Linked DNA regions of Homo sapiens. The protein of the gene in region 1 interacts with the protein of each later gene in a pairwise test. Each region holds a gene or a part of one and is shown in the gene's direction. Other genes may lie near its edges. The genes, in order: TNPO3, SMURF2, CAMK2G and SSX2B.

Region 1 (8,079 bases):
CGCCATCTCAGCTCACTGCAAGCTCCGCCTCCCGGGTTCACGCCATTCTCCTGCCTCAGCCTCCAGAGTAGCTGGGACTACAGGTGCTTGCCACCATGCCCAGCTAATTTTTTGTATTTTTTAGTAGAGACAAGGTTTCACCATGTTAGCCAGGATGGTCTCGGTCTCCTGACCTTGTGATCTGCCCACCTTGGCCTCCCAAAGTGCTGGGATTACAGGCATGAGTGACTGCGCCCAGCCCACCCCACCTCACCCTTTTTAAAAAAAGAAAAAAAAGAAAAGAAAAGTTGGGGTCTCGCTATATTGCCCAGGTTGGACCCGAACTCTTGGTCTCAGGCAATCCTCTCTCCTCAGTCTCCTGAGTAGCTGAAATTACAGGTGCACACCACCACATCCAGCTCCACTCCTTTATTTTTTGTTCCGCCTGTGCATCTGCCTTCAGATGTACCTGTGCTTCCAATTCCCCAGTCTTCCTGGGTTTTGCAACATGAATAGTTTGTCCCTTGCCTTCCCTATTCTCGTCTCATCCTCCCTCCCCACCCCCAGGCAAATATCAGCCTTTTCGGATCTGCTAAGACAGTTAACACTGTCCTTTAGCTTTCCAGTTTCCACAGTTCTATTGATATCTGTCACCTGTTTCCATTTTCTTTGTCTTTATGTGTTTTTGCCTTTTTTAAAAAAGATCTTTACTCTGATTTTTATTGGATTTTTGGAAGGACCTGAAAGCAGACAGCTGTGTTCAATCAGTTAGTTTAGTCATTTTAAACAGAAGTCCCTGCATTAGTTCTTGAATTTTATCAAAACCTCAGTTCATTGACTGTTCCTTACTTCTTCTTTATTAGGTCTTCTTGTTTTTACTTCTCTCCTTACCAAATGTGGATTCCAAGATCTATCATTCTAGTCATTTTATAAATACACCATCACCTTTCCCCTCCAATTTGGTCAGACTTCAGCATGGTTGTATGCAGCTGCTTCTCCTCTTGTCAGATCTAGGTGCTTTGCATCTCTCAATCTTCTGAAATTTCTGGGACCTTGATCTTTTGGTTTATCCTATGTCTTGTCTGCATCTTTAGACTCCTTTACTGAGTCTTTCCCATCAGCATCCAAATAGCTGAAATATTTCTCATAGTACACAAATATTTTGGGGTAGAGTGGATGCCGCCTTTGCCCAACTTTACTTTCTTCTCTGCTTTTACCCTTTCCCAACCCTTTCTTCAAATGCAGAAACTAACTCATCTTTTGAAAGCCCAACCTAAATTCTGCTTTCTCCTTCAAGGCTTACCTGCTTCTCTTCAGCCAAAAGTGATTTCAGCCCCCAATGAATGCCTAGAGAACTTTACTTCATTGTGTTTGCCTTTTTATAAACCTTTTTGAAAATAAGTGTTTTGCCTCCCCTACTAGACTGGGATTCTTGTCACATTTGTTTATGTAGTCCAATACCCATAGTTGAAGAAATAAACCATGGTTATTAAGATAAACAATCAAGACACTTCACACACAGGTTCTTAAAAATGTTGATTGTCAGAAGTGCATACATGCAGATACTCAGTTGGATAACTCACATTTTTCTTTATCTGCGAGTTTTATTTATTTTTGCTGTCACTTTTCACCATATACATGGTTAAAAATAAACAATATTCAGCACCTTTAATGCTCTTCAGTCTTTCCAGTCTTTTTTTTTCTTTCTTTTTTTTTTTTAAATCCTTTATGAGATGTATATGTTGCCCTCATTTCATACTTGCAAATATTCAGGTACAGAAAGGGAGAGGAACTTTTTGACTCAATAAGGCTCTCTTTGTTTATTTATTTTTTGAGACAGAGTCTCACTCTGTTGCCCAGGCCGGAGTGCAGTGGCACCATCTTGGCTCACTGCAACCTCCGCCTCCTGGGTTCAAGCAATTCTCTTGCCTCAGCCTCCCAAGTAGCTGGGACTACAGGCACATGCCACCATGCCCGGCTAATTTTTGTATTTTTAGTAGAGATTGGGGTTTTGCCATGTTGGCCAGGTTTGTCTCAAACTCCTGGCCTTAAGTGATCTGGCCGCCTTGGCCTCCCAAAGTGCTGGGATTAGAGGTGTGAGCCACTGCACCTGGTCTATTTATTTAGTTTTTTGAGACAGGGTCTCACTCTGTTACCCAGGCTGTGGAGCGCAGAGGTGTGATTACTGCTCACTGCAGCCTTGCTCACCTGAGCCTGGGTTCAGGTGATCTTCCCACCTCAGCCTCTTGGACAGCTGGGACTACAGGCATGCACCACCATACCTGGCTAATGTTTTGTATTTTTTGTAGAGTCAGGGTCTTGCCATGTTGCCCAGGCTGGTCTCAAGCCCCTGGGCTCAAGCACTTCTCTCACCTCAGACTCCCAAAGTGCTAGGATTACAGACATGAGTCACTGTGCCTGGCCAAGGCTCTCTTTAAGTGGTCACTAAATGGCATTTGTAACCAAAAGTAATGTGTGTGGTGGTTTTTTTCTTTCCGGAAGATTTTGTCTACTGGAACAAAAGCGTGTTTTAACTGTAGTAATAACTATAGTGTTTTAACATCCATTTGAAATTGGTAAGGCATAGAATTTGTGTGGTTTGCTAAAAAACTACTTTCAAGAATATGTATTTGTGAAACTATTATCCTTATTCTTCTCTACCACCCCACCTAACTAATCCGAGAGTAATTGAGTATAGTTCGAATGACCTGGTGACAGTAGACGTGGTATAGAGGTATAATTTGAATATGCTTTAGCCTGTACTGTGAGTTAGCATCTTTTCTCTTTCTCTAATATTTGTATAAAACAGCCATTTTCTGAAGAATCTGTATTCATTGCTCTAAACTTCCACCAAAATTTTTGGAGATGTACAGCCATGGTTGTTTTATGTGATAGATAGATATCACTGATAACTTCAAAGTGTTCTGAAAGAGAGTATTTTGAGGCAGATCTTAAAGGAATCTTAGTAGCCTGTCCTGTATATTTAGTAGTTTCATTTGTCCACCCCTACTAACCAAAATTAGTAGAAGTTGTAGAGAGCTATTGAAGGAAAGACCATCTCTTCATAGGGCCAATTACTTAAGCGACTCAGTTATAAGTTTTTAATTTAAGTTGTAAGTAGGAGATAACTTTTACAGAGACAATCTTTGGGTTAGATATTACCTCAAAAGTTTTATAGTTCAGTATGGAAACTGAATAGGCATGCTTCAGCATGGGTGTATGCAGCTTTTTGATGGAAAGCATCAAAAGCACAAAGCAGATGAAGTAAAGTCATGCTTTGATAGACTAAGTTGGCATTGTCATGTTTGGTTTATCACATGTCCATAGGAATTTTCTTCTTAGATATCATATCAGAAAGGTCTTGGGTTGATATGGTTTGGCTATGTCCCCACCCACATCTCACCTTGTAATAATACCCCCCGATTTGTGGCAAGGTGGGGCCAGGTAGAGGTAATTGAATCATGATGGGGGGTTCCCTCATACTGTTCTTGTGGTAGTGAATAAGTCTCACAAGTTCTGATGGTTTTATAAATGTGAGTTCCCCTCCACAAGCTCTCTCTTGCCTGCCGCCATGTAAGACGTCGCTTTGCTCTTCCTTCGTCTTCCGCCATAATTGTGAAGCCTCCCCAGCTATGTGAAACTGAGTCAGTTAAACCCCTTTCCTTTATAAATTACCCAGGCTTGGGTATGTCTTTATTAGCAGTGTGAGAACACATTAATACATGGGTCATGGAATATCAGCTTCAAACTTCTTTGCTAGTACTTTTCCTTTTTGGAATTTATTGATTCTTTAGCCTGGTTATAAAACCTAGGGTTTTTGGCTTTTCTCTGGTCATTACTGATTTATCTTGAAAGTTTAGGCATTTTTTGTGTGTGCTTATGCTTGCACCTTCCAGTCAAAACATGCTTTTGAAAGGAAAGCCTTCTAGAAAATAGAAAATATTCCTATACAACTTCAGTAGATGAGTTCAGTCTAGGAATACTCTGTGCCTTGCACTGATAGAAACTGGGAGTATGTAAATAATGAAAACCAAAGATCTTTCTCCCAGAGAGTGTACCAATGTAGCTGTGTCATCCAGTGTAGTAGCCACCAGTCTAGTGTGACTATTTAAACTTAAAATTAAGTAAAAGTTAAAATCAGTTTCTTTTTTTTTTTTTTTTTTTTTTGAGACGGAGTCTCACTCTGTCACTCAGGCTGGAGTGCAGTGGTGCAATCTTGGCTCACTGCAACCTCCACCTCCCGGGTTCAAGCAATTCTGCCTCAGGCTCCCGAGTAACTGGGATTACAGGTGCATGCCACCATGCCTGGCTAATTTTTTGTATTGTTAGTGGAGATGGGGTTTCACTGTGTTAGCCAGAATGGTCTCAATCTCCTGATCTCGTGATCCACCCACCTCAGCCTCCCAGAGTGCTGGGATTACAGGCATGAGCCACTGCGCCCGGCCTAAAATCAGTTTCTTATTTGCACTTACCCACATTCCAAGTACTGTACGGTACAAATATAGAACATTTCATGTCTTTGAAGTATTGGAGTCTATGTTTGTGATTTTGTGACAGTATTTCTGTTGCCATGGTAGTCTGTTATGTGGTGGCATTTCTCCATATTTTGATTAGTTTCTTGTCTTGCCAGGCCTTGGGCCAAAGTTGATAGTTTGATTTAGGATGTAAAATTATCAGGGTACTACTATATTTTCTAATTACAATAGTTTTTCCAAAGTTTTTCAGATATTTCTTCAGCATTCTTTTACAGTGATTGATTGCACTGATGTTTATGGAGGAAATGGAAAGTAGGTTTTATAGATTTTTTTTTTTTTGTGGCAAAACATTCAAAACATAAATTTAGCATTTTAACGTTTTTTTTTTTTCTGAGACAGGGTCTTGTTCTGTTGCCCAGGTTGGAGTGCAGTGGTGCGATCATAGCTCACTGCAGCCTTAAACTCCCAGGCTCAAGCTATCTTGCCTCCTCAGCCTCCCAAGTAGCTGGGATTACAGGCATGAGCTACCGTGCCCAGTCATTTTAACCATTTTTAAGTGTGCAGTTCAGTGGTATTACATACATTGACATTGTTGTGCAACCATCACCATCATCCATCTTCAAAACTTTTTCATCTTGTAAAACTAAATCTATGCCCACTAAACAAAATAGGTGCCCATTTGCTCCCCGCCCCAATCCCTGGCAACCACCATTCTACTTTCTGTCTCTATGAATGTGACTATTCTTGGTACCTCATGTAAGTGGAATCATACAGTATTTAGCCTTTTTGTGATGGGCTATTCTCACTTAGCATAATATCTTCAGGGTTCATCCATGTGCGTAGCATTGTCAGAAATTCCTTCCTTTTTAAGGCTGAATAATATCCCGTTGTATGTATATATACCACGTTTGGCTTATCCATTTATCCATCAATGGACACTTGCTTGCACCTTTGTGAATAATGCTGCTATGAACATGGGTGTATAAATACTTGTGGGAGTACCTGCTTTCAATTCTTTAGATATACAGTATACCTAGAATTAGAATTGCTGTATCATATGGTAATTCTATATTTATTTGTTTACTTATTTGGGGGAACTGCCATACTGTTTCCCAGATTTTTAAGCTCTGTTAAACTTAAAAACAAATTTATTTCTTAGGAAGTTGATATTACTCAGACTACCTGTCCTGTATTTCCCTCACTTGTACCATGGTGCTGAAATGTTACCAGAGAGTATTTTTACAGCTGTATAGGTGAAGCCTCTAAGATAAACCTTATTTCTCTTTACTGGAAGTTAACAGTATTGCTACAAGGGATAGTTTTGTAGTGTTTGTTATGTACATACTCTTAAAAGTACTAATTTAATTTTCTTCTTCTGGTAGAGTATCCAAAATGAAATTAGAAAACAAGTATTTTTCCTTTTGGTGGGTTTTCTGTTAACAGAGTTTGCATAATGGTTTTTACTTATTTTTTTCTCAAGCCCACAGCACAATTCTTTTTTCTATTTTGTGTTCATTGCTTCCTAGTTGTATTTTCTGTCTCAGTCATAGTGTAATATTTTAACAGTTATCTTCAAAGCAAGAGAATATATTTGGAACTAGACATGAAAACATAGATGTTTTGAGCAAGGCTCCATCTCAAAAACAAAAAAACTAAAAAAGGCCAGGCGCAGTGGCTCATGCCTGTAATCCCAGCATTTTGGGAGGCCAAGGCAGGCAGATCACTTGAGGTCGGGGTTCAAGAAAATATACATGCTTTTATATAAATAAGCATTCAGAGATTTAATTACCACTTTAATGCGTTATTACAATACTTTAAGTTAGACATATTACATTTATGTAAGTTTGAAAAATTTGAGTCTTAAGCACTGTTAACATATGCTTTGTATGTACAATAGAATTCTCATCTGGTTTATATGGGTTATAAAACTGAGCAGGTAGGCAGAAATAGAGACCAGTGTTGAAAGAAGATAAATTTTCTGTATTTTGGCTTTCAGGAAGCCTTTGCATGGGCTAACCATTTGTTTCAAATGAAATGGTTTCAAGCTTGGCATTTTCTATTTTTAAAGCAAGACTGCCTAGTATAAATAAGGCCCACAGTGAAAAGATTATCGAGTAATGCTTGACTTGGTCATTCCCAACTGAAGTTGGCTTTATGGATCTAAATTTATTTGTCTTTTTCAGGGCCATTCTTGAGATTAATACCAACATTCATAGGTAATTGAGGATTATTATTTTGGATAGGGATTCTTGTCATGAAAAAATTGGGGCAAGATATCTTAGTACCATCTTATGTGTGACCAACAACTATGTAGTTCAGCCAAAATTCATTTGTCAGAGGTCATTATGATATAGGATTATTTAAAAATGCTTGTCTCAGAACTTCTGGGATTTCAAAGAATCCGGGAAGACCCCACTGTGCAGTGCTGTCATTGGCCTTATTGATTCCTTTCTTTTATTTTGATTCAATTTCAGTTTATTTTAGAGATAGGGTTTCACTCTGTCACGCAGTCTGGAGTGCAGTGGCAGGATCACAGCTCACTGTAACTAGGGCTTCAGTGATCTTCCCACCTCAGTCCCCTACCCCCACCCCCTGAAGCTGAGACCAAAGGTGCGCACCATCACATCCTGCTAATTTTTTTTTTTTTCCTGTAAAGACTGGGTCTTGCTATGTTGCCCAGGTTGGTGTAGAATTTCTGGTCTCAGGTGATCCTCCCACCTTGGCCTCCCAAGGTGCTGAGATGACAGGTGTGTGTCATTGCACCTGACCCTTCCTTTTAAGTAATTGTTTTTAGCTACGAATATCTTTCCTCCTAAGGAAAATACTTGTTTTCCTTTTGATTATATATTTAGCTCTTATGGAGATGGCTGTGAAAATGTAAGTTGACTGAACTTACCTCTATAAGGGAACTTTTTTGCTTCTAGAAAATGTATTTATGTATACCCAAGTGTATTTTGTGAATCTGGGAGCTTGCTAGGAGATTTATGATTACTTTTCTTTTACAATTTTTTTTTTTTTTTTTGGAGGATGGGAGTTGTTTTATCACTGCTTTGGTGAAGATATTAGCTAAGTTTGATTTCATCTTGGTTTCTGTGTTTCAGGCCATCTTGCAAAAGAAGTTATATTGAAAAATATTTTTAGGTAGTGATGGTTATCTTATGTGCCCCTCAGTTTATTTTTTTCTTAATTAGTATCCTTTCAAACCATTTTTCTTCCCACTGTCCGAGAAAATTATCAAGAAGTAATTTGTTGTAACAAATCTAGCAATTTATCTCGTTTTGTAAAATTCTCATAAAGGATTAGATAAAAGAAGTTAAGGTAGTTGATGACTTAAAAAATTACTTTTTCTGTTTGAGGTAAATTAGACTTGTTCTTTCTTTACCCGTCTCATGAAAATGATTTTTTCTTGATATGGGAAATTCTGACTTTTCTAGCTCTATACCACATGGTTGCAGGGCATATATCTAAAATATTGTTTTGTTTGACCGATTTGTAGTTTTCTTTTTAAGAGTTCTTTTTACTCTGTGTTCTGATGTAGTCTTCCTTCCCAGAACTTTCCCCAATATACTATAAATCTTTGAAAATCTTCATTTAGTAAATAATATCGTTCACTCATCGAAATGCT
Region 2 (2,763 bases), on another chromosome or scaffold:
GAAGCAACGAAAACTCTGGGGTGAGGGATTGAAAAAATCTGAAATCACAGTTGGATTTTTAAATTCAACCATCAAAAATATGTACTATCAGTTTTTTTTTACATTGATGTGAAATAAGCAAATTTTCATGATAATTAAGCTGCAAAATTTAAAGTTATCAAGTAAATAGGTCCTCTGTGTTCTGTTTCATGTGATGGAGTGGGTTTCAGTCTGTGTTCTTGGAGCCAAAGGGTTCCTCAGGGGTGCCTCAGGAGTAATGGTTTAAGAGAAGAGGGGCAATGAGAGGGAGCGAGGGGGAAGGCCTAGTTGGTATTTGAGCAGGGGCCTTAGGCTCCATATCCCCACCCCCTTTACCCAGAACAGCCCATTTTTCTTATGTATATTGGAATTTCAAGTAAGCTTTCATGGGGTGCAGTGGGGCGGGGAGGAATGGATGGGATAAAAAAAGTGGAGATTTTGCTGCTTTAAAAAAGTTGAGAACTACTTGTGTAGTTTTTAAGTATTTTAATGTATTTCATTTGGCCAAATTCAACTGCCACAAGCAAGCTAGTCATAGTTGTAACTGTGCAGTGGTAATATGCTTATGCCTACCTTTTTCCTCTCAAACAATTTGTTTTTTTTACATTGCATTCTGAGTACTGAAGAGCATCTTGAAATGTATGGAAGTGGTTTCTATGCTATTTGATAATCAGTAATGTTCAGCTGTCATGATAGTACTTTACTGGTTGCAGACCCATCTCTCTTTTATATTAAAGCACTAGTGCAGTTTATAATTGTGCCTACTTTTAAAATCTTTCAGTAAAAAAGTACATAATGAATACAGAAATCATAACTGACAGGGATACAGTAATAATGAAATGCTACTATCACTTATTTTAATATACAATATAAAGCAGGCAAATACCATTGCTTTTTGAGTGCCTTTTTAACTTTATACTAATGACTTAATAGAGCTTTAAAAGAAAGAAATTGGCTGGGCATGGTGGCTCACACCTGTAATCCCAGCACTTTGGGAGGCCGAGGTGGGCGGATCACCTGAGGTCAGGAGTTCGAGACCAGCCTGGCCAACGTGGTGAAACCCTGTCTCTACTAAAAATACAAAATTTAGCCGGGCATGGTGGCGCACTCCTGTAATCCAACTACTTGGGAGGCTGAGGCAGGAGAATTGCTTGAATCTGGGAGGCAGAGATTGCAGTGAGCCGAGATCGCACCACTGCACTCCAGCCTGGGCGACAAGAGTGAGACTCCGTCCCCGCCCAAAAAAAAAAAAAAAAGAAATTACTCTCCATAACAGTCTATGTTATCACCAACATATATAAAAACATGATTTAGATTTCCATTTCAAAGTTACATTACCCGATTACTTCCAAATAGGTGCTAAGCAAAAACCCCCAATGTATTATTGAACCATGGACTTGCACCTCATGTTTAATGTGAATATTTATTTCCATGTCCCTCTTAACTGGTTTTTTCTTGTCTTCCCTCTAGCTGTATTGTTATTTCAGATATGTGATATCTGTTTTCATACTCTTGCCTTTCCATCATGAATGCTTAGTTATGAACAGAGATTCCTTTGTAGAGCTCATAGGCAGTACAGAGAGGTAAGTCTTGCCTCAGAGGGCCTTGTATCTTGGTGTAGTTTTTAAATAGTGCATAGTGTATAGTGTATAGTGTACATTTTGTTTTGCACATAGTTTGTTGCCCCGAATGGGTTTTTTACCAAGCCTTTTTTTCTTTCATGTATTTACAGTCCGGAGCACAAGATTCTCTTCTTTCAAATACAATGTAATTCGCTTTACTTTACAACACTAAATCTGGGCTTTGAATTTCCAGTGCATTGGACTGATTGGATTGTTGGGAGTTAGAGGCTGTTCCAACCATCCTTAGTTTGGGAGAGTGGCTCCTTCTGCTTGTTTTCTAAGCGTACAGTCAACGGGTGCCATTTGTGGTATTTAACATGTTAGGATGATTGTTCCAAATGCTGAGTTGTTTTATTTCTAGATGTAATTAGTTCACTTTATGTAATATTCTTCTCTCAGACTGACTTTAAAAACAAAGTTTTATCATTTTCATTGTATTTGTATTTATTACAGAGTGTTTTAGCTTTGATATTCTTTGTATTTTCATTCATTTGTTACATGAGCTTTATCAGTAACATCTGTATAAATGGTTTTTAAAAATTAACTATGTATGTGCCCATGCCGAAGTCGAGCAATAAAATCAATGCTGTTTGCACTGTCACAGCATCAACGTTTTTAAAGAATATTGAGTTTGTAATGAATCGTTTTGAAAACATTTATGGTTGGCTCTATGGAGGGTGACAACATGAGTCACAAAATGAAAAGTTCAAGAACACATGCCATCCTGAGTTGATGCCTCTGTCATGTTGCAGAGCTCAGCTTTCTGTCTCCTCGCAGAGCAGGGAAGGTGCCCGTTTTCTCCGGCCGTGGTGACTGCTCAGTTGGTAGTACCTGTTGGGGGTACCGCATAGGTGGATTTCTGAGGGGGGTCAGGGGCTAGTGGGGAAGAGCATCTTGGTCCTGTCACCAGTCTGCAACCATCTTTGCTATAATACATCTCCGCTCTGTAGGGCAGGCCTATGACAGGGGCTCATATTTGCCAGCCCTACCTTGGTATGTCGAGCAGTAAAATTCTCAAAATGAAAAGGAGAAATCAATTGTATTTTTTCTAGAAGCTGTGGATTTTAAGGTTTATAATTCACTACTGTATTAATGATAGTGGACTAAAGTCCAGCTAACTCTA
Region 3 (8,079 bases), on another chromosome or scaffold:
CCGCTCCCGGGTGCCCTCCAGCCCCGCCCCTCCGCACCCTTCAGGCGCCCCCCTCCCGACCACCTCCCAACGCTGCCCGGTTGCTCACTCCGCACCCTGAACCCAGGTCCCACGCGCCTCGCACTCAGGACCCTCCCCAGCCCTGCAGCCCTAGCTCTGCTGCGGAGCCCGGGCGTGGGGGGGCTGTTTGGCGCCCGGCCCCGCCCCCCGCGGGTGCCGCTCCAGGCTCCCAGCCCCGCGGCTGGGCAGTGCTGCGGCACCCCCGTCCCCTCCCCCCACCCCTGCAGTGGTCCCGGGAGCCGCGCCGCAGCCTCAGCATCCCCCTCCCCTCCGCACTGAGCTGGCCGCTGCAGCAGCCCCGGCCCCCCACCCCCACCCGCGGCGCCGAGCCCGGCCACTGCAGCCCCCGCCCCGCCCGCCCCCCCAGACGTTTCCAGAGCTCAGAGTGCGAGCTCCCGTTTGACGGGGACGTCAAGGAAAATAGCATGGGAAGGGGAGTTCTTGATGTCTGACTGTGTCCTCTCTTCCCTTGCTGTCAGTTGAGCCGGGATGCAGTGAGATGAAACCGGCTGTGGGGGGGTTTGAGCCTCACTTTGCCCCATGGTTGAGGGAGATTTCTCTTTCAGGGGATGATACCCTCTTTTTAATCTTTCCTTCCCCGACCTTCAACTGTTCCTGCTGAGAGAAGGGCAGGGTCTCTCTGCTCCCTTCTGCCCTGGTTCTCTTGGCCGGGACCGCAGGGCTGTCTGAGATGCAGCAGGTGTGTGTTTTCAGCATCGCCCACCCGCTCCTGATGTGCAGCCTGAGGTGGAGGCTGTTGCCTTGCCCAGGGACTGGATGAGGGGGTGGGAGCGCGGCACGCCACCCACATCTGTTCAGTGTCCTGCGGTGGCCGCGTCCTTTTGCCTCATGTTGGATGGTGGTGGTCACAGCGCCGGTGTGTGTGCATGTACGTGAGTGTGACTAGAGGTCTGGTGGTGGGAGCATCATCGTCCCCAGACTTGAAGTGTGTCTGTGTCACTCTGCCCTGCTCCGTGTCCCAGTTCTTTTCCCCTTCTCCCTCCAGGGGTGCTTTCTCTGTGGTCCGCAGGTGTGTGAAGAAAACCTCCACGCAGGAGTACGCAGCAAAAATCATCAATACCAAGAAGTTGTCTGCCCGGGGTGAGTGTTCCCTGTCTTGACCTCTTCCTGAGGGTGCCTCCAGGGGCCATGGTTTCTTTTGAGGAAGCCCCAGGAATTGGGGGTTGTGCGTTTTAGCACTTGGAGAGGAGTTGGAATTTCAGACTGGTTGGACTTTGTGTCAGGCTGAAGCCAGAAAAGGAGTTGCATGGGGGACTGGAAGCGCCCAGGTACAAAAGAATGAAGGAAGAGATGCAAGTAGCTGCAGTGGCCCCCAAAGGCTCAAGGGAGTTCGGTCTTCAGGGAGGTGGAGGATATGGGGGTAGTGGGTGGTACAGAATGGGGAGCTCTTAATTTGGGGCATTTGGAGCCTCTCCCTTTGGGGCAGTGGTGGCTACTGCAGGCCTTTCCTGGTCCCTGTGCCCCAGTGGTGACTTAGGATGGAAATGCAGTAAGTGAGCAGCTCTGACAAAGCCAGCCTCCCCTGCCCACCAGGCGGCAGAACAGACTCCCAAGGGAAGGGAATCTGTAAACATCAGGGGAGGCTGCTACTGGCGAGGGCTTCTCAGGAACAAATTCTGCCAGATGAACTTGATTGCTTTTTTGATCAAATTACAAAGTTGGTGGTGCAGCAGCAGATGTAGTCTGTCCTGGGTGGAGGGTGATGCCTCATGGTCTAGAAATCCCAAAGGCCCGGTTTGGGCAGGAACTGCACTGCCTCCGAGTCTGAGGAGCATAAAGGCCAAGGCCTTGGGGCCTCACTTGCGAGATCCTCCCAAGTACCTGAGGCTTGGAGGGTCAGGGCCTGTCTTTCACACCTTGAACCTACACTCTCTGAACTTCCTATTGGGTACTTGCCAAACTCACCTCATCTGATAGGTGTAGACCCAGCAATGTGTGAAGTGCTCTGGGAACAGGTCTGGTGAGTACAGAGGTCAGATCTCGGAGGGCTGCAGGGTGCAGCTGGGGGACAAAGGTTGTGAAACTCAGAGAAAGGAATTAGGGCTGGGCAGTAGGATGCCATAAATATATTAGGAGCCAGGACACATGCCCTGGGGAAGACATGGGCTTTGGCCAATAATGACACGGGTTTCTCTGGGATAAGAGACATAATAGATGTCCCAAATGCTTAGAGAAGCTCTACAATTCCACGGGCTTCTGTCGTGTTGGCAGTTGTTCTGGGACCTGTTTAGCAGGGCCGTGTCCACTCCCTGACTGGGGACTCTCTCTCCATCCCTCTAGTAGGGCACTAATTGCTGACTCCCATCCAGCTCCATCTCTTGCTGTTCGTGTACATTGCCTATAAAGTTGGACTTGTTTGTTTTCTTTCTCTCTGGGTACCTTGAGTCTGAGGATGGTTGCCATAGAGATATGTGGGCAGTCAGATACCCTGGAGTGGGGGTGGGGGGGACAACAGGGGCTGGGCTCTCTGGCAGACATCCTCTGGCCAAGGATGGAAGGTGCAGGCAGGAACAATGGCTTGAGGCTGGATACCTCTCTTGCCCACACAGCAGAGCCCTGGTGCATCAGAAACAGGGCTGGCATCTGGTGTCTCCAGTTGATGATGCAATGCTTTGCTCTCTTCATCTCACCAGTGTCCTCTGACCCATGGGTAAGAGAAGGAGAGATGGCTGGGAGCCGAATTCTGGGATGTGAGGATAGGTGATGTGGTGACTTCCTGCAGCTGCCTGACTGGGGCTTTCATTTCCTACTCCTTCCCTACCTGCGTAAATTTCCATGACCTGTGTGATAGCCTCCCTTTCCCTTCCTCACCTCCTTTTAACCTTGTCCCATCTTTCCCAATGGATATCTTTCCCTGGCCAAACTGGATGAGACTTGATTTCTCGTTGATTTTTTTTTTTTTCCCCTCAAGAAGAGGATTCTTGTGTAAAAGTATATGCTTCAGACAGCAACTCCCCCTCTCCCAAGATGGATATGCCAAGACTGGGCTCTGTTGTGTGGCCTCATGTGCCAGGTTGACTTTGGGACAGAGGCACAGATGATAGGCACAGATGCCAGCCAGAGGGGTCAGAATGTGTAAGTGCCAGCCAGTACTGTGTGGAGGTGGGAAAGTGGAAAGGGGCTGTCTTGGAGATGGAGGGAACAAGGTGGGGCTGGACTATAGGTGTGGGCATGGGAGATGTGAACTCCTGGAGAGATCTGGGCCAGGGTAGCCATGGGCTGGTTCCCATGGGGTTAGGGAGTGAGGGCCATGGCTTCCCTGCAGACTCTCAGTTTACACTATATATTTTATAAAGGTGCAGCCACTGGAGCTGGGTTTCACTCATCGCTGTCTGCCTAGGTCTCCGCAGGTGTTGGATTTCTGTGTCTGGGAATGTCGTGGGCCCACCAGGGTCATCTGTGAAGGTCTGAAGGGGCTTGCTGTGTTCACTGGGTCTTCCTGCCTCCTGTCTTTCTTGTTTGTGATTCTCTGGGCTACAAACTGAAAAGATAAAAAGAGGGTATAGAGCTGTTTCTCCTTGGCATCCCTGGTGAGGTGGCTAGGAGTCAGGGAGAGGGATCACCTGTTCTTCTGGGGGGGTCCAATCGAGACAGGAAGCCTTCTTTTGGGCTGTTGTGTCTTGTCACTGTGGCCTCAGAGGCCCACATTGGCGGCTAGGTTGCAAGGTGGGGAGTTCATGCGGATATGCGTTGAGCACTGTCTTTGTCTGCGGGCCTGTCTACATAAAGTCACTGAAAGTCACATAACGTCACTCCGTTTGCTTCAGAACCGTGATAGGAGTGGAGCTGGGCTCTTAAGGGAGCCCATGGTTCCAAGCTTAGCTCCACTAGGCCGAAGGAGGCATTTAAAATAGGCTTGGATGCAGGAGCTAGTGGGCCAGGTGATGGCAATGATAAGTCGTTATTTTAAGATTTAAGAGCACCCCCCTCAAGGAGCCTGAGCCCTTATGTCTTTTTTTATTTTTAAATCTTCATATTCCCTTCTTATCTTTATTCATATGCATACAGATTTTCACCTCGTGGAGCATAACATTTTATATCCTGCTCTCTTTGCTTATATCCAAAGCATTTCCCCCATATTACTACAGTTGAAGGGCAAATGGTCCTTTCTTCTACGTCGTTTAGGATTTATCCCTAAAACAATCAGCATCACAAGAAACTTCTGTATATGTACCATTTATCTGGATTCCAGTTGCTTTTACCAAGATAGATACTGGGGTAATGCCCTTGGCCTTACTAAGAGATGCTACCGGAAACAGTGTTTTGAAATCTGTTATAATACTTTAACATATTTATTTAATCTGTACATTCCGTGTGAAGAAATTTCTTTTGAAGCTAAATGTAAGCAAAAGCTTTCCTCTTTGTGAGGACCTGAGAGGTGAGGGAAGGGTCCTTATGTGTTTCTATACTTCTGCATGGGCAGGCCCTAGCGAAGTGCCTGACGTATGCCAGCCACATACACATTAAATGAATGGGTCAAGAGGACTATGTAACCAATCATGGTTGCCTTTTGGCTTTGGCTCCTAGGAAACTCAGAGTCAAGTTGCCAGAGCCCTTGTACCCTGCTACAGACTTGGGTCCTCCCTTTCTGATCCAGGGAGCCAAGCTGCAGACCTGATACGGCTGCTGGAAGAGAGGACAGATGAGGATAAAGACCTGTGCTTGGGGCATAAGGCAGAGTGGGAGATGTAGGCAGACATTTAGCTGATGATTCCTCCTTCCCTGTCACTAAATGGCACTATAGGGCCACTGTTGGGATCTCTTCCAGGTAGTGATTTTCAATTTTAGTGTGCGTAAGGATCACCCTGAGTACTAGTTTAAAAAATACAGACTTCTGGGCTTTAGCCACAGAGATTCTGCTTTAGGAGGTCTAGGGTGGAGCTGCAGAATCTGCATTTTTAACACATGCTCCAGTGAATTTCATGCAGGTGAGGCATGAGCCACTCTTTAAGAGATGCCACCTAAAATCTGCAACAACAGTTGCTCTTGCCATGCCCTCTGGAATTCAACAGACACACCTTGGCCCATCCTTCTCCAGATTGTGTGTCTGCCACTATGTGGCCATCTGTGCACATGGGCTGTTCTGTGATTAGGGGCCTCGTTCTGGGCCTCGGGATTGGGGTGTCTGTGTCTGAGGCTGCGGCAAGCTGGGTGGCTCGGGTTGTGGCATGTTGGCCACCAGAAGGGTAAAGGCTGTCCCTTTCTGGGTCCAGCTGGCCCTGGGGACTGAAATGGGATCCCCTGGATGGTGCCAGCTGAGAGTCCCCGCCCCCTTAGTGTTGGCCTGAGTAGCCCCCATGACATTTGTGTCCCCTGTGGTATCTCCAAGTGAGACTTTCCTGTTAAGGATCTGGGTGAAGTGAGGGAAAGAGAAGGGAGGGGGAAGCAGTAATGCAGGGAGTGGGAGAAGGAAGAGAAATCCACACAGCACTGGAACACAGGCCTCGAGGAAGCATTTAAGGAGGCTGTGTGCGAAACCATGCTTTCCTCCTGAGGATAAAACAGGCCAATTTCTGTAAACAGAGAAATGGGCATCCTGCATATCAGTGATGGAGCGCCTCTACTTTCTCTCCTGAAGGGATGGAAGCCGACTGCAGGTCCCTCTGTGCAAAGGCTTCTGCCAGGCGGCTTTTGTCACGCGGTCACGTTGAGCTGTGGGCCTTAGCACACACAACACTGGCCTGTCCCCCTCCCCTCCCACCTGTCTTCCTAGAGTGACTTGGGGTGCTGCATCATGGTGTGGGGATGGAGGTGGGAAGGTTGCCCTGTCCTGTCAGGGAGGCCCCTGCCTTCTTCCTGCTGCTTCCTCTGGTCCCTTGTCACCATACCCTTGTTCGAAGCTGTGCTGAAACCCTAGAGGTGAGTGGCTGACCCCATTCTCTGCTGAGACTGGAGATAGGGAAGGGGAGGCTGGGTGTGACCATTCCTGCTCCCATCTGTATGCTTGCTGCTCTCTGAACAGCTTTGGCAGACCAACAAGGGCCTGATCCCATGGGTGCCAAAAGGGTGGTGACAGGAGGAGATGGGCACTTTGCACCTCTTGAATGCCTCTCTGCAGAGCCCCTTTGTCACCTACCCATGGCCAGACAGATCTGCCGCAGGACCGCTGGGGAAATCAAAGCACAAAAGCTTTGTCTGGGGTCTTTTTTTTCTTTTTTGGTTTTGTGCTGCAGGTGCCCATGACTTTGCCAGGGCTCAGACCCAGCGTCCTCAGGCCGTGTGGCCTCCACCCACTCCTTGGCGCCTTTCTTTAAAACACAGGTTCTGGATACTTTGTTCCTGTGATGAATCTTGGCATATCACCTCACACCTCTCCATCTAGGCCCCAAGCTCCAAGCCTGGTGGAGCAAATCCCTCCTCGTTGCTGGCTGAGGCCCCATTCCCGTCTGTACCCACCTCTCTGGGCTGTGCGGTGGGGAGATTTCCAGCCACTCCTCCCCAACACCATCTCCGCTTCCTGGGCCCTATCAGCAGCAGCCGCAGCTTCCCATCTGCTCCCCTCTTTTCTCCTCCCTTTCTTTCCCTTCCCCCCTGCTTGCTGCTGCCCTGGGAGGAGCTATTTTTAGGGGCTGCTTCCTGGGATGTTTTACTTGGGGCTGGTTACCATGAAGGAAATGTCACCAAAACAGTGGGCAAAGGCTGCAGGCACCGGGAGCCCTGCCGGGGGGCATGGAGAACAGACGGCTGACCCTTTTCTGGCCCTTGAGAGCAGCCAGAGTGCCCCCAGGCAGAGCCTTGCCTTCTTGGGGCTTGCTAGTGACCCCTTGGGGATTTTCTCTGTCAAAGCTGATTGAGGGCCTTTTCGCTATAGGGCATTTCTTGGAGCCTCTCGCTTCCCTTGCCTTGAGATCCAGAGGCCAAAGTGGGGCTCAGGTCTTTGTGTCACCAAGTTAAAACTGCTTGAGTGAGGGTTGAAGATAAGGGGAGGATGCTGGGTACATGCACAGAGCCTTGGGGGTTCACATGGGACCATTTCAGGCCCCGTCCCTCTGTATCACAGCCCCCAGCTAGTCACCAGGTGTACATGTGTGAGGGCATTAGAAACCATGGTCCTGCTCTTGTGTGTCGGATGGACTTTGCTTTTAATTGGAGACTCTTTGCATCTTTAGAGTGAGATTCAAAGAGGAAGGGATGTGGCATCACAGTGTCAGGGTGAGGTCGGTGGGATCGTGGCTTGGGATTCCCACTGGTCAGTGTCCCAGGCCCAGGGCTGTGCATAAGCAGCTGGGGAAGGTGGATTATGACATCAAATCCCTGCGATGTCCTTGTTTCTGCTCCTCAGAGTGCCAAGGGGACCAGACGGCGGCCTCTGCTGCTTGGGAAGAAGATGAAAGGCACTCAGGAGGGCAGCAAGTGAGGCCGCCTCCCATGGAGCCCTGAAATCAGTGGGGTTGCAGGAAGTTTCTCACATCCATGTTTAGGGTCATAGGCACAGACCTGCAAAATACCCTTTACAAAGTTAAGAATGTCTTTGAGATTGGAACTTGGGAGAGTCCTCAGTCAGAGTAGGAATGTGCATCCTTTCCCACGTACAGAGGATTGTATGTTTACGTGGCAGCAGGATCTTATTTGAAGCTAGTGCTGGCATTTGTGTTTTTTTTTTAGGAAAATGTCACTAAGTCAAGCAGGCCCATCCCTGAGAGGGCCATGGAGAATCTGTGGCCAGCCCTCCCTGGCCCCCTGACCTGGCAGAGGAAGGAAAGGGCATTGGAGTAGGCTTCTGTCTTCAGGCCAGAGGGGGAGGTGGTTCAGGGGCAGGCTTGGTGCACCCCTTGGCTGCAAGCTATCACCTCCCTATCTGCTTCCTCTTTTCTGCCTCCCCTGGTGCATCTGGTCACTTCTTGCTGCCCTTCCTGTGAAATCGTGGCACCTTGGACCAAGTCCTGAAGCACTTGGGCAGAAGGCGGGAGAGGTTGGGTTTCTAGGATCCTTGTTTCCCAGGGCCTGGCTCTGGCCTGGGCTCAGACCACTCTGGTCTAGGCAGGCTGCTGGGGAAAG
Region 4 (8,079 bases), on another chromosome or scaffold:
CCCTGATGCGACAGAAGTCTCTCTAGAGTTTGGAAACCTTTACCAACAAAGAAAAATTCTGATGTATTCTCTTTCAGTTGAACGTCCTCAGATGACTTTCGGCAGGCTCCAGGGAATCTCCCCGAAGGTGAGTGTCTCTCAGATCTAAAGGACCAGAGAACCTTTGTCCCTCCACGGATGCGAACACTGGTAAGAGTGGGAGAATATCAAAAATGCCCTCACTGCCTTCTTCTCCCCATGTCTATCACAACACCTGATGTCGCACCGACGGCTTGATAGTACCAACAGTTGCGATTGTTAATACTTCTTTTGTTTTCATAGTGATGCCAGATACTATTTCAAGCAGTTCACATGGATTAATTTATTTAATCCTTAAGAAGACATTGTTTCTATTATCTCCAAATAATAATGAGTCACACACTTCAGTTTTCATCCATATGAAAGCCATGTGACTTGACACAAATCTTCTAAGTTCTCTGAGCTCCAGATTCCTGGTCCATGAAATGGAAGTAAAGAATTATAGTTCATGTTTTAGATCATAGTTATCAGCAACATAATAATAAAATGAGGCTATCGTGGTACAGAGATGTTAAAGAATTTTCCTGGGGCGCAGTGGCAGTGGTAGTCTAATCCAGAGCTCCAAGCCATTTAAAGCTCATTCACATTTGCATTTGTCTATGAAGTTCAGATGTTGCTCACTAGGGCTTCACCCCATAGGGCCTGCTGGTGCTTCCAATGAGACACCCACTCTCTCAACAGGAAGGACCATCTGGTCTCTGCTGTGTTGCTGGGGCCACTTGCATGGCTTAGGAATCACTTTGATTGTTGGCCCCTCCCTACTGTGAGCTCCTTGAGTGCCTTGTCTGCACCTGGGGCATCTGGGAAGGCCCAGTCCCAGCCCAGGGGATCCCTCGGAGGCCCCTGAATGAGTGATCCCACAAGTGCAGATTCAACTCTGGTTTGGAGGGTAAAGGGATCTGGGAGTTGGGTTGCCAGTGTGGAGACTGAATTCAAAGAAGGATTGTGAAAGGTATTAATTGTTATTATTACGACATTTAAACAGTGTTTACAAGCTCAGAGAGGACTTTACTGTAGGCTATTTGACATGTATGGTTCACTATTTCATAAGGGAGGAAGCTGAATGAAAAGTAGCTTAAGAGCCGGGCGCGGTGGCTCACGACTGTAATCCCAGCACTTTGGGAGGCTGAGGCGGGCAGATCACGAGGTCAAGAGATCGAGACCATCCTGCCCAACATGGTGAAACCGTGTCTCTACTAAAAATACAAAACTTAGCGGGGCGTGGTAGTGCCTGCCTGTAGTCCCAGATACTCTGGAGGCTAAGGAAGGAGAATCGCTTAAACGCGGGAGTCGGATGTTGCCTTGAGCCGATATCATGCCACGGCACCCCAGTCTGGCGACACAGTGAGACTCCGTCTCAAAAAAAAAAAAAAAAAAAAAAAAAAAAAGAAAGAAAGAAAGAAAAAAAAAAGTAGCTTAAGATTGTTGGTCAGTGACACATCCCAATGCAACCAGAATTGGTATGGGTACCACCTCACTGAATTCCACATTGAATGTCGGTGCCCCAGTAGGGTAGTATGTCATATCTGGTACTGCTTTGTTTGCTGCCTAGATTAATTTCGGCAAACCATTTCTTTCCCTCTCCCTTCCCTGTATTCATCTCCCCACACCATCTTTCCCAGCAGTGTTTTGTCGCCTCCCTATGTTTTTACATTTACTCTCCCAGCAGCTGTCTAGAAGCTTATATGGGATCCCTTGTATTTTACAGAACCTCTTCCCTTTGTAGACCTTGTGAATTCTTAGAATGCTACTCTTCTCCAAATCATCTGTATATCACACTCTCAATTACATGGAGATTTTTGCTGTTTGCAAGAATGTCAGTCCTAAAAGAGTGGGAAGATAAGCATTCTATCCCTGGAAACCATATTCACTTAGGCCATTCCTTTCCCTTCTAACCTCCCCTCCCAGGTTTCTCCTAATTTAGGCCTGTGTAACTCTCCCAGTGTTGTTGAGAACATTGAATAAGCTAATGCATGTGAAGACCCTTTGTAAGCTCAAAAGCACTATAGATATGTCACTGATACTATTTATCTGTGATCTTCACATTATAAAGATCATGCCCAAGAAGCCAGCAGAGGAAGGAAATGATTCGGAGGAAGTGCCAGAAGCATCTGGCCCACAAAATGATGGGAAAGAGCTGTGCCCCCCGGGAAAACCAACTACCTCTGAGAAGATTCACGAGAGATCTGGTAAGAGGAAGCAATTCAGGAACAATCCCTCTGGCTTCCCTGGCGATGTTCAGGTATATGGACTGGGTGTGTGGCATGGATCCCAGATAACCCTGGGTCCAGACTGGGCTGAGGAGCTCGCCCAGCTCCAGATGAGATGTTAGACATGACTTCCAGAGATAGACTTGATTTGTCACCCATAGAAAAAACCATGTGACTTGGGGCAAGTCTTTCAGATTTTCTCAGCTCCAGATTCCTAGTCCGTAAGATGGAAATAAGGAATCATAGTTCATAAATTGTTTGGAGACATTAAATTTAATCTAGAAGGCCTGATGACATGAAAGGTGCTCAAGCAATTCTATCTGTGATTACCTGGGATCATTACCTGATTAAGACTCAGCTCAATGCCATGCCTGTTACCCAATACAGGTGTACTTCAGAGATACTGCAGGTTCAGTTCCAGACCACTGCAATAAAGTGAGTCACACACGTTGTTTTTTGGTTTGGCAGCGCATAAAAACATTATGTTTATACTATAGTGTAGTCTACTAAGTGTGCGATAGCGTTGTGTCTAAAAATGTATATACCTTAATTTAAAAATAATTCTTTGTTAAAAATGCTAACAATCTTCTGAGCCTTCAGTGAGTCACACTCTTTTTGCTGGTGGAGGGTCTTGCCTCGGTGTTGATGGCTGCTGGCTGATCAAGGTGGTGGTTGCTGAAGGGTGGAGTGGCTGTGGCAGTTTCTTAAAAGAACACAACAGTGAAATTTGCCACATCGATTAGCTCTCCGTTTCATGAAGGATTTCTCTGTAGTATGTGATGCTATTGGATAGCATTTTACCCACAGTAGAACTTCTTTCAAAGTTGAAATCAATCCTCTCTAGCTATGAAAGTCCTAGAAGGCATCTCCTTCCAATAGAAGGCTATTTTATCTACATTGAAAATCTGTTGTTTCATGTAGCCACCTTCAACAGTGATCTTAGCTAGATCTTCTGGATAACTTGCTGCAGCTTCTCCATCAGGGTTTGCTGCTTCACCTTGCACTTTTATGTTATGGAAACGGCTTCATTCCTTAAACCTCATGAACCAACCTCTGCTAGCTTCACATGTTTCTCCTGCAGCTTCTTCACCTCTCTCAGCATTCATGGACTTGAAGAGAGTTCTGGTCTTGCTCTGAATTAGACTTTGGCTTAAGGGAATGTTGTGACTGGTTTCGTCTTCTATCCTGACCACTCAGACTTCCTCTATTTGAGCAGTAAGGCAGTTTTGCTTTCTTATTCGTGTGTTCACTGGAGTATTAGTATTATTATTTCCTTCAAGAACTTTTCCTTTGCATTCACAGCTTGGCTGTTTGGCGCAATAGGCCTAGCTTTCAGCCTGTCTTGGCTTTCAGCATGCTTCCTCACTAAGCTTAGCCATTTCTAGCTTGTGATTTAGAGTGAGAGACATGCGACTCTTCCTTTCATTTGAACACTTAGCGGCCATTGTAAGGTTGTTAATAATCCTCATTTCAGTATTGCTGTGTCTCAGGAAATAGGGAGGCCCAAGAAAAGGAAGAGAGACGCGGAACAGCTCATCGGTGGAGCAGTCAGAACACACACAACATTGGTCGATTCAGTTTGTCAACTTCTATGGGTGCAGTTCATGGTACCCCCAAAACAATTACACACAACAGGGTGATTATAGTCAATAATAACTTAATTGTACATTAAAAAAAAAACTAAAAGTGTAAATGGATTGTTTGTAACACAAGGATAAATGCTTGAGGATGGATACCCTATTTTCCATGATGTGATTATTACCCATTGCATGCCTGTATCAAAGCATCTCATGTACCCCATAAGAATATACACCTGCTGCGTACCCACAAAATAAAGAACAAAAATTATTTTAAAACACTAAAAAACAATAAAATCAATTGCAGTAATAATATCAAAGCTCACCGATCACAGATCACTATAGCAGATATAATAATAATGGAAAAGTGTAAAATTGGTGAGAATTAAAAAAAAAAATTGCAGCATCTGCGAAGCAGTATGAACATGAGGTGCAACAAAACAAGGTACGCCTGTGTGGCCTTAACAAATACGTGCTGGATGAAAGGAGGTATGGGGGAATGTTCCCGTAAGTGAAGAGGTTGGGAATCTAAGCCTGAGAAGGGAAGGAGCCAGAAGCTAAAACTTTAATTGGCATTTGGCCTATGTTGGTGTGGATCTAAGGTCTCAGCCTCTCTAAGCCAGAGAATGTGAAAAACTGGATGAAGAAGGCCCATGGGCACTTGGGAGGAAGCAGGCATCTCCTTTTTTTGAGTAAACAGAGCCTAACACTCTCCAACCTTCCCAACCCTCACTTTCCAACTATTCTCCATCACAGGACCCAAAAGGGGGGAACATGCCTGGACCCACAGACTGCGTGAGAGAAAACAGCTGGTGATTTATGAAGAGATCAGCGACCCTGAGGAAGATGACGAGTAACTCCGTAAGAGAACCTTCCACTCATCCCCCACATCCCTGCAGACGTGCTATTCTGTTATGATACTGGTATCCCATCTGTCACTTGCTCCCCAAATCATTCCCTTCTTACAATTTTCTACTGTACAGCATTGAGGCTGAACGATGAGAGATTTCCCATGCTCTTTCTACTCCCTGCCCTGTATATATCCGGGGATCCTCCCTACCCAGGATGCTGTGGGGTCCCAAACCCCAAGTAAGCCCTGATATGCGGGCCACACCTTTCTCTAGCCTAGGAATTGATAACCCAGGCGAGGAAGTCACTGTGGCATGAACAGATGGTTCACTTCGAGGAACCGTGGAAGGCGTGTGCAGGTCCTGAGATAGGGCAGAATCGGAGTGTGCAGGGTCTGCAGGTCAGGAGGAGTTGAGATTGCGTTGCCACGTGGTGGGAACTCACTGCCACTTATTTCCTTCTCTCTTCTTGCCTCAGCCTCAGGGATACGACACATGCCCATGATGAGAAGCAGAACGTGGTGACCTTTCACGAACATGGGCATGGCTGCGGACCCCTCGTCATCAGGTGCATAGCAAGTGAAAGCAAGTGTTCACAACAGTGAAAAGTTGAGCGTCATTTTTCTTAGTGTGCCAAGAGTTCGATGTTAGCGTTTACGTTGTATTTTCTTACACTGTGTCATTCTGTTAGATACTAACATTTTCATTGATGAGCAAGACATACTTAATGCATATTTTGGTTTGTGTATCCATGCACCTACCTTAGAAAACAAGTATTGTCGGTTACCTCTGCATGGAACAGCATTACCCTCCTCTCTCCCCAGATGTGACTACTGAGGGCAGTTCTGAGTGTTTAATTTCAGATTTTTTCCTCTGCATTTACACACACACGCACACAAACCACACCACACACACACACACACACACACACACACACACACACACACACCAAGTACCAGTATAAGCATCTGCCATCTGCTTTTCCCATTGCCATGCGTCCTGGTCAAGCTCCCCTCACTCTGTTTCCTGGTCAGCATGTACTCCCCTCATCCGATTCCCCTGTAGCAGTCACTGACAGTTAATAAACCTTTGCAAACGTTCCCCAGTTGTTTGCTCGTGCCATTATTGTGCACACAGCTCTGTGCACGTGTGTGCATATTTCTTTAGGAAAGATTCTTAGAAGTGGAATTGCTGTGTCAAAGGAGTCATTTATTCAACAAAACACTAATGAGTGCGTCCTCGTGCTGAGCGCTGTTCTAGGTGCTGGAGCGACGTCAGGGAACAAGGCAGACAGGAGTTCCTGACCCCCGTTCTAGAGGAGGATGTTTCCAGTTGTTGGGTTTTGTTTGTTTGTTTCTTCTAGAGATGGTGGTCTTGCTCTGTCCAGGCTAGAGTGCAGTGGCATGATCATAGCTCAGTGCAGCCTTGAACTCCTGGGCTCAAGCAATCCTCCGTCCTCAGCCTCCAGAGAAGCTGTGACTACAGGCGTGCACCATCATGATCCACTAAGTTTTTTAAGGTTTTGTCAAGAAAGTCTCTCTATGTTACCCAGGCTGGACTTAAACTCCTGGGCCAAAGCAATCCTCCCACCTTGGTCTCCTAAAGTGTTGGGATTACAGGCGTGAGCCGCAGCACCTGTCCTCCAGTTTTTATTTTGATACAGACTATACACTTCAGTCCTGGAGCAGGATTCTGTAGCAGGTGGTTGGGCATCTTGGCCTTTGCTCTCTGAATGATTTTCGGTTTCAAGGTCTGGGACGGTCCATTTGGGTGGATGTGGGAGGAGACACAGATGAAATCGTCATCTGGGGAACGTGGAAGAATAAGGCAGATGCGTGCAATGTAGACCCTGTGATGGACAGGGAATAGAAGAGTCCACTTAGTCTCCATGCAGGGGAGCAATTGGTGGGAAAGTCTCCTGGACAGAAGCATGAGAGCGCCCATCAAGGGTCTCACCAACCAAAGGCCTGGGGGCTGGGGTGGGGATGATGATTTGGGAATGGGACAGTTCTTTCTCACAGGTACCATTGCACGGTACAGAGGTGAAACAGTTGTGGGGAAGGGAAGGGCAGAGGGGAGTCTATTTTAGAACAAACCATTGCGTGTCAATGGAGACATCAAAGCTCCATTCACACACAATGGACTTGAAACACCAGCCCCAGGTGGAGGCAGGATTGGAGCTGTTTTGCCCGTTCGTGGCCCATCACCTTGGCCTCCTGGTTCTCCCCAGCCTTCGAAGGAGGACACTATCATCATTATGCCAATATAATAGATGAGAGACGGAGTCCCAGAGAGATGGTAGGTGTCTTGTCAGAGGTCCTACAGCTGGCAGGTGCAGGAGGGGCTGAGTTTGGAGCTCACTGACTTCAGAAACTTTAAGGAGGACAGGTGTGTGTGGTGGAGGGAGGGGGAATTGAACAAGCCCCGGGCTCTGTCCCCAATCAAAATGTAAAGGCTGTGGGTTCATTTACCGAAGACAAGGAGCCCTAGGAGAGAGAGAGTGCAGGGAGGGAGAGGCAGTTGTGGTCACAGCAGGGACAGTGGGAGACAGAGATACGAAGGGTGGGCAGAAGAGGGGCAGGCAAAGAAGCAGGGGAGACAAAGCCACATGTGGGCTGTCACAGCCACCAGAGGGAGAGGGTGCCTGGAAGGAGATTGTGGAGCTCCAGGAGCAACAGAGGTTCCCCAGATCTGTGAGCATGCCCTGCCTGGCAGTGCAGGAAGAGATGGCTGCCACCCAGGTCAGTGTGGACGTACCTCTACCTGTGTCTCAGAGGGAACAAATTCTATTTTATCCCAATATAGTTCTGTATTACACAAATGTAACATTCGGCTACTAGATATTGAGTGCCATGTCCTCCATGCAAATAGAGGAGAGGATACCCTAAAAGAGATACCGAAGCATTTGATTTTTCTTTCTCCCTGGGACAATGGGATCCATAAGTTGGGTCCCCCAGCCCACAAGACAGGTGCAACGTAGTGTGGCAGGAAGATTGTGAGTTATGACAGGGAACATTTTTCCTTAGGTTACATGGGTATATAAAGCTCCGGACTATCTGTCTATCATGGATAGATAAAGAGTGAACATGGTCCCTTCTCCACAAATGTGTTTCTCTCCTTGATTATTACTGTAAAGGGCTGAAGTTACACCAAGTCCTGATACATTACTTTTTCGTGGTTTTTTGTTTTTGTTTTTTTGTTTGTTTGTTTGTTTGTTTGTTTTTTTGAGACAGTATCGCAGTCTGTCGCTGAGTCTGGAGTGCAGTGATGCAAGTACAGCTCACTGCAGCCTGGATCTCCCAGGCTCAAGGGATTCTCCCACTTCAGCTTCTGATCTAGCTGGAACTACAGGCACACGCCACCACA

The links.
Region 2: the proteins of TNPO3 (region 1) and SMURF2 interact in a two-hybrid assay, tested with the Homo sapiens proteins (one large-scale study listed by BioGRID and IntAct).
Region 3: the proteins of TNPO3 (region 1) and CAMK2G interact in binary tests that used the Homo sapiens proteins (3 or more experiments, as listed by UniProt).
Region 4: the proteins of TNPO3 (region 1) and SSX2B interact in a two-hybrid assay, tested with the Homo sapiens proteins (one large-scale study listed by BioGRID).

What each region holds. Positions count from the first base shown.
Region 1 is NC_000007.14:129,042,263-129,050,341, reverse strand, and holds part of TNPO3 (transportin-3), read left to right. Parts: intron 1-8,079. UniProt on the Homo sapiens protein: Importin, which transports target proteins into the nucleus. Specifically mediates the nuclear import of splicing factor serine/arginine (SR) proteins, such as RBM4, SFRS1 and SFRS2, by recognizing phosphorylated SR domains.
Region 2 is NC_000017.11:64,541,782-64,544,544, reverse strand, and holds the end of SMURF2 (E3 ubiquitin-protein ligase SMURF2), read left to right. Parts: 3' UTR 1-2,263; downstream 2,264-2,763. UniProt on the Homo sapiens protein: E3 ubiquitin-protein ligase which accepts ubiquitin from an E2 ubiquitin-conjugating enzyme in the form of a thioester and then directly transfers the ubiquitin to targeted substrates.
Region 3 is NC_000010.11:73,866,071-73,874,149, reverse strand, and holds part of CAMK2G (calcium/calmodulin-dependent protein kinase type II subunit gamma), read left to right. Parts: exon of another isoform or gene 1-947; coding exon of another isoform or gene 948-949; intron 950-1,066; coding exon 1,067-1,161; intron 1,162-8,079.
Region 4 is NC_000023.11:52,755,723-52,763,801, forward strand, and holds the end of SSX2B (protein SSX2), read left to right. Parts: intron 1-77; coding exon 78-127; intron 128-2,131; coding exon 2,132-2,267; intron 2,268-3,778; coding exon of another isoform or gene 3,779-3,924; intron 3,925-4,621; coding exon 4,622-4,722; 3' UTR 4,723-4,726; intron 4,727-5,191; 3' UTR 5,192-5,814; downstream 5,815-8,079.